Linked DNA regions of Homo sapiens. The protein of the gene in region 1 interacts with the protein of each later gene in a biochemical or structural test. Each region holds a gene or a part of one and is shown in the gene's direction. Other genes may lie near its edges.

Region 1 (3,825 bases):
CACTTGAAACTTATTCCATGAGGGTATGGGAGTTTGAACTTAAAAGGAAAAAGATGGAATTTATCATTTGCCATTGTGATTGCTTACTGAAATTAGACATCAGTCTTATCCCCAGTCCCAACTTAGCTACCCATGCAGAAGATACAGACCGTCCAGAAGATACATAACAAGCTGTCACCTTATTCCATAAAACTCTTTCCTGTTGTACCCAACACATAATCATGACTGCTCAGCCTAGCAAAGCAGTTTGATACGTTATAGGACAGGCTGTCAGAATAAAATTATGCACATTTTGCTATCAAACAATTCTGCTGTAAATGGTTCCTTTAAAAGAAACTTCTTGCTGCAGAAGAATTTCCCCTCCAGGAATAAAGGAAGAGTAAAATACTAATCTGCATTTCTTCAGAGGTGTGACACGGTCTACTTTATTACCATGTTATATAATAAACATATATAATGTAGAAATAAGGATTTTTATGCAGGTATGCATAGAATTATATAGAACTTTAAAAAGTTATTTTTTAAAATTTTTTCACATGGTGAATATTTTATTACAGTATATAACCATGTAGTATATAACATGTACATATTTTTATGTACAGTATATAACGTACATATTTTTATTACCTAGTATGTGTATGTAAAATCTATAGTGACTTTGTTTTGTGTATTGAAAACATCTTTGTAAGCTGCACATTTTTGTGGGAGATAAAGACTTCTTTTTTTAAATCTTAATTCAGGTGAAGGTACAAGTAAGAAGCTGGCGAAACATAGAGCTGCAGAGGCTGCCATAAACATTTTGAAAGCCAATGCAAGTATTTGGTGAGCTAAATTTCTTTGTATTCAGCAGCTCAAAAATATCATGGCTGAGGTAAGATTAAAAATTTGAACATGCTTACAAAAGCAACAAAGTGAACAGTTGTTAGCATCCTACCTCTCAAATTCTATTTCCTTATGAAAACTTATCATCCATTAAAGAAAACTTTATCCAATCAAATCCAGCAATTAGCTATTAAATGAAGGTGCTCATGAACTAGGCTTTACTGTTTTTTTTTTTTTAATGGGATACAACAGTAGAAAATCAGTGCTTCTTGCAAATATTAATATTAACATTTTGTATTTAGACTTTGATTATTTCTACATTGAAGAAAACAAAGTGTGAGATGGAGAAAGATCCACTAAAAGTACTCTTTTGGGAATTCTAATTTTGAAGAAGCAGGCAGAGGTTTTCTTTTATTATATAATGTATACCAAAAGAAGAGAATGTTAAGTGGGATATTAATTCTTGACATATCTTTCTAAAGTAAGATTTTTTTTTTTTTTTTTTTTTTTTTGAGACGGAGTCTCGCTCTGTCGCCCAGTCTGGAGTGCAGTGGCGGGATCTCGGCTCACTGCAAGCTCCGCCTCCCGGGTTCACGCCATTCTCCTGCCTCAGCCTCCCAAGTAGCTGGGACTACAGGCGCCCGCCACTACGCCCAGCTAATTTTTTGTATTTTTAGTAGAGACGGGGTTTCACCGTTTTAGCCGGGATGGTCTCGATCTCCTGACCTCGTGATCCGCCAGCCTCGGCCTCCCAAAGTGCTGGGATAGATTTTTTACTACTTTAGGTGTTTCTAGATAGAATATTGGTCCTGGAGCATCTCACATATTAAAGTAGTGTCCACTGGGTGCACTCTGGAGCTTGGCATGCTTTCAAGTTCTTCTTGTGCATACACTTACATATGCCTGAAGTACGATCTGTGTAATCAGCTTATAGTTGACAGTAGAGACCCAGGGAATTTGGGATGGGTTTTTTGTTCCCTAGTCATAGAAAGGCTTTTGGATTAGGGGTGTAGTTAGGTTCTCATGTAGTATTCCTCTCTTTTTGTAAATCATTCTAAACCGTTTGGGTAGTTTAGAACTAACCAGTGACATGGCAACCCTCTAGATAAGCAGCTGCCCAAGACAAGCCTTGCATTTCACAAGATGATGCTTGATTCTCTAGGGTCATGCATTATAATTGATCTATGCCAGGCTGGGCGGGGTGGCTCACGCCTGTAATCCCAGCACTTTGGGAGGCTGAGGTGGGTGGATCACTTGAGGCCAGGAGTTCAAGACCAGCCTGGCCAACATGGCAAAACCCTGTCTCTACTAAAAATACAAAAATTAGCCAGGCATGGTGGCAGGCGCCTGTAATCCCAGCTACTTGGGTGGCTGAGGCACAAAAATCGCTTGAACCCGGGAGGCGGAGATTGCAGTAAGCTAAGATTGTGCCCCTGCACTCCAGCCTGTGAAACCCTGCCTCAAAGAAAAACAAGGCCAGGCATGGTGGCTCACACCTGTAATCCCAGCACTTTGGGAGGCCAAGGTGGGCAGATCACTTGAGTCAGGAGTTCGAGACCAGCCTGGCCAACATGGTGAAACCTCGTCTCTACTAAAAATACAAAAAATTAGCCGAGTGTGGTGGCACGCTCCTGTAATCCCAGCTGCTTGGGAGGCTGAGACACGAGAATTCCTTGGACCCAGTAGGCAGTGGTTGCAGTGAGCTGGGATCGCGCCATTGCACTCCAGCCTGGGCGACAGAGCAAGACTCTGTCTCCAAACAAACAAAAAAAAGACATGCCAAATGACATGGCAGGTATTGGGTTCTCCCCCACTGGTGATGGCCATGCTGTTTCTGTATAGCCTGAAGGTGAACCCAACCATTAAGTACATTTGTAGAAATGAGGGGTATGGAGTGTCCTTTCTGCATCTTGGCACTTTGTCAGCAAAAAAAGCTAACAAACTTTACTATATTTGTGCTTCTTGACAGATAAAATGGGAATTACTAAGCTGTAATCAGGCCTAAAGTGGCCTGACTTAATACAGAGACTTTCTCACTTCTCCATCACAATTATTTGGGTAGCTTCGGCATGCAGCATTGTAAGTGAATACTCATATCTCATCAGCCTATGTAAAGCTTGAAATTCTCACAGTTGGAAAAAAAAAACCTTGAGGAAGTGGCAATAACTAAACCTCATTTGTCATGGAAAAATGACTCCAGTTGCCTAGGTGGTACTAACCTTGAAATGCCGCTTATTCAGTTTTAAGTACTGACCTGCTAAGTAACTAGTAATTCCAGACTCCCTAGAAGAGGTTGTTCTCTTTTTCCCTAATCATAATCCCCACTTGCTAAAACCAAATTCATCTAAGCCATCTATTTTCTGCAGGATACATGTAAATCTTAGAGGATTATCCCAGCACTGAGCAGATGATAGATCAAACAGATCTCTCTTCATAGTTCTGTGGATGAAAAAACAGTATTTACACATAATCTGTATTATTCACATTGCCAGGCTAAATTTTCTGGATCATTGTTACTCTTCTGTTTTTTGTATAGTTGTAACAGAGTATTCTTTAAATACATTTTTATGGCATGCCTATTATGTACAAAACACCACAAAGCTTATGTAGGTAAGTGATACATAGGCCCTACCTCAAGGAGCTTACTGTCTGAACAGGGGAGAGGTGTGGTGAAGGATGGACAAATTATATGTATTTGTAAGAGTATATAATTTATGGTAAAACAATTTCAAGAAAGGATTAAACCATGTGTTATAATGTTTCAAAGAAGGGAGAGATTATAAACCACTGGGGTAAAAGGATAGGCTTCTTGGAGGAAGTGACATTTGAGATATATCTTGGATGACCGATCAGATTCCCATAGAAGAGGTCTGAGAAAAGGGCATTCCATGTAGAAGGAATGACAAGAGCAAAGACATAGAGAGTTAATTAGAAAATGCTTGTCATTTATTTCATAATTCGGGGGAAATTATTTTGTTTTATAACACTTTTAAAAAATATTTA
Region 2 (2,593 bases), on another chromosome or scaffold:
GCTGGGCAGGGGGCACATTCTGATGGCCAGGCCCCGGTGGTGTTTTGGTGTATGTGGTAGAGGAGTTTCTCAGTGGTGGGGCCCTGGGGTCCTGCAGTACCCTGGATGCTGGCTCCGCTAAAGTGTTTGCTCTGATCTGCTTCTTCCTCCCTAGTGAGGCCTTTGGCCTTGGTGCCTTCTATGAGGAGACCACACAGGAGCTGGATGCCCAGCAGGCCAGGCTCTCAGCCAAGACTTCAGAGCAGACAGGGGAGCCAGCTGAAGATACCTCTGGTGTCATTAAGATGGCTGTCAAGTTTGACCGGTAGGTCTCCAGCTTGGCCTCAGCTTGGGCTAGGGCCAGCACCCTTGGGGTCCCACTGGGCCAGCACACTGGCTGCTGTATGTGCTTAATGTCAAACGTAGGGACCACAGGTCTTGTTGGTTTGGAAACTCGTTCTAAATTTTCAGCATCCCATAGAAGGTGCTTTCAGGGGAGATAGTCCCTGAAAGGCTGTCCCAAGGATAACTGAACTCTACTTTTTCCCTGATTTACCGCCTCCCACAACTCAGGGCAGGGGGGACTTGTCTCCTGTTCCTGAAAGTCTGTGCTTTTCCAAGGCCCTGAGGAACTGGCTCCTGGCATGAAGCTCCTCAAACAACAGCAGGACCCTAGCCCTCATTTGGCTCTGCAGCCCCTACCCACACCCAGTGCCCCTCACCAGCTCTGTGGTGCTCTCTCAAGCTGCTTACGCCTCAGATTGTGACTCAGCTTTGAATGGTGCCCTCCTCTGGGATCTGAGCCTTTCTCCAGTCCCCAGGACCAGACAGGAGCCAGTCTTGTCTGGCAGAGGTGTGGAGAGGGGGAGCAGGGTGGTGGGGAATAGCTGTTGGGCAGTCAGATGCCAGGGAGAGTTCCAGTTGGGAAGTTGGAATATGACCCCTCCCACCCTGTCACTGTGTCACCCTGTCACAGGCTGACTCTGAAACCAGATTCCAAGTGTCCATGGCTGCAGCAGATGATCATGACACTTGGCAGGCGGAATCAGGATGGGCGCTGAGCTAGATCCCCGAGACCATTGTCTGGCTACCTCCATTGCCCACCTCCACCCACTCCCTACTAATCTTGTCTTGAGTGGCAAGCTTCCTTCTTGGATGTTGAACATTGTTTTTCCAGTCTGGACCTCAGAGTACTGGGAGTTCATTCCCCCTTCCCTTACAATTTCTTGAGCATGCCAAAATTCATCTTCCCTTTAGGGAGAACCCAGGTCCAAGCTGCTGGTAGGACAAGAATGGGAGCCTAGGGGAGCAAGTACAGAAGCCTTAAGGCAGCAGCTCGGTGTCTCAGTTCCTCTCATTTCTGCAGCTCCTTTCAGGAGCTGAGTAGTGCCCTGGCTGAGGGAGGGAGCGGTGATGGTGGGTGACCCCAACTGCTTCCCTTCCTTTCCCCAGGAGAGCATACCCAGCCCAGATCACCCCTAAGATGTGCCTACTAGAGTGGTGCCGGAGGGAGAAGTTGGCACAGCCTGTGTATGAAACGGTGAGTTCCTGGCTGTGGCCTGCCCTGCAGCCAGTCACAGCACTCCCATGGCTTACACCCTCAACTCTAGATTGCCAGGCTGGAGCCTGGCCTTGACCTCTGTAGGCATGGAGAAGCTGCTGGTGGCCAGGTCAGTTGCTGATAGCCCTCCCCTCTTACAGTGGCCTGTTGTCCAGTTCAGCCAGACATCTCTCTTTTTTTTTTTTTTGAAACAGAGTCTAATTTTTATTTTTTATTTTTTAGAAATGTGGTCTCAGCCGGGCACGGTGGCTCATGCCTGTAATCCCACAACTTTGGGAGGCCGAGGCAGGTGGAACACGAGGTCAGGAGTTCAAGACCAGCCTGGCTAAGATGGTGAAACCCCGTTTTCCTAAAAATACAAAAATTAGCTGGACATGGTGGTGGGCGCCTGTAATCCCAGCTACTTGGGAGGCTGAGGCAGAGAACTGCTTAAACCTGGAGGCAGAGGTTGCAGTTAGCTGAGATCATGCCACTGCACTCCAGCCTGTCTCAAAATAAATAAATAAATAAATAAATGGGGTCTTGCTTTGTTGTCCAGGCAGGCTGGTCTCAAACTCCTGTGCTCAAGTGGTCCTCCTTCCTCAGCCTCCCAAAGTGCTGGGATTATAGGTCATGAGCCTTTTTTAAAAATTTTATTTAATTATTTAATTATTTATTTATTTTTTGAGACGGAGTCTCGCTCTGTTGCCTAGGCTGCAGTGCAGTGGCATGATCTTGGCTCACTGCAACCTCCGCCTCCAGGTTCAAGTGATTCTCCTGTGTCAGCCTCCTGAGTAGCTGGGATTACAGGTGGGTACCACCACACCTGGCTAACTTTTTTGTATTTTCAGTAGGGATGGGGTTTCACCATCTTCACCAGGCTGGTCTCGAACTCCTGACCTCAGATGATCCCCCGACCTCGGCCTCCCAAAGTGCTAGGATTACAGGCGTGAGCCACCGCACTTGGCCCAGACATGTTTTTGGATCAAGCCTCAGCCAATGGGGCACAGAATTGAGCCCCAGATGTGGTGCCCCTGGGGTGGAAACCATGAGATAGGCTTGCTTCACTTCCTT

The links.
Region 2: the proteins of PRKRA (region 1) and DUS2 form a complex in vitro, tested with the Homo sapiens proteins (one study listed by BioGRID).

Annotation. Positions count from the first base shown.
Region 1 is NC_000002.12:178,444,502-178,448,326, reverse strand, and holds part of PRKRA (interferon-inducible double-stranded RNA-dependent protein kinase activator A), read left to right. Parts: intron 1-740; coding exon 741-822; coding exon of another isoform or gene 823-871; intron 872-2,791; exon of another isoform or gene 2,792-2,901; intron 2,902-3,825. UniProt on the Homo sapiens protein: Activates EIF2AK2/PKR in the absence of double-stranded RNA (dsRNA), leading to phosphorylation of EIF2S1/EFI2-alpha and inhibition of translation and induction of apoptosis.
Region 2 is NC_000016.10:68,075,201-68,077,793, forward strand, and holds part of DUS2 (tRNA-dihydrouridine(20) synthase [NAD(P)+]-like), read left to right. Parts: intron 1-154; coding exon 155-304; intron 305-1,431; coding exon 1,432-1,519; intron 1,520-2,593. UniProt on the Homo sapiens protein: Catalyzes the NADPH-dependent synthesis of dihydrouridine, a modified base found in the D-loop of most tRNAs. Specifically modifies U20 in cytoplasmic tRNAs. Activity depends on the presence of guanosine at position 19 in the tRNA substrate.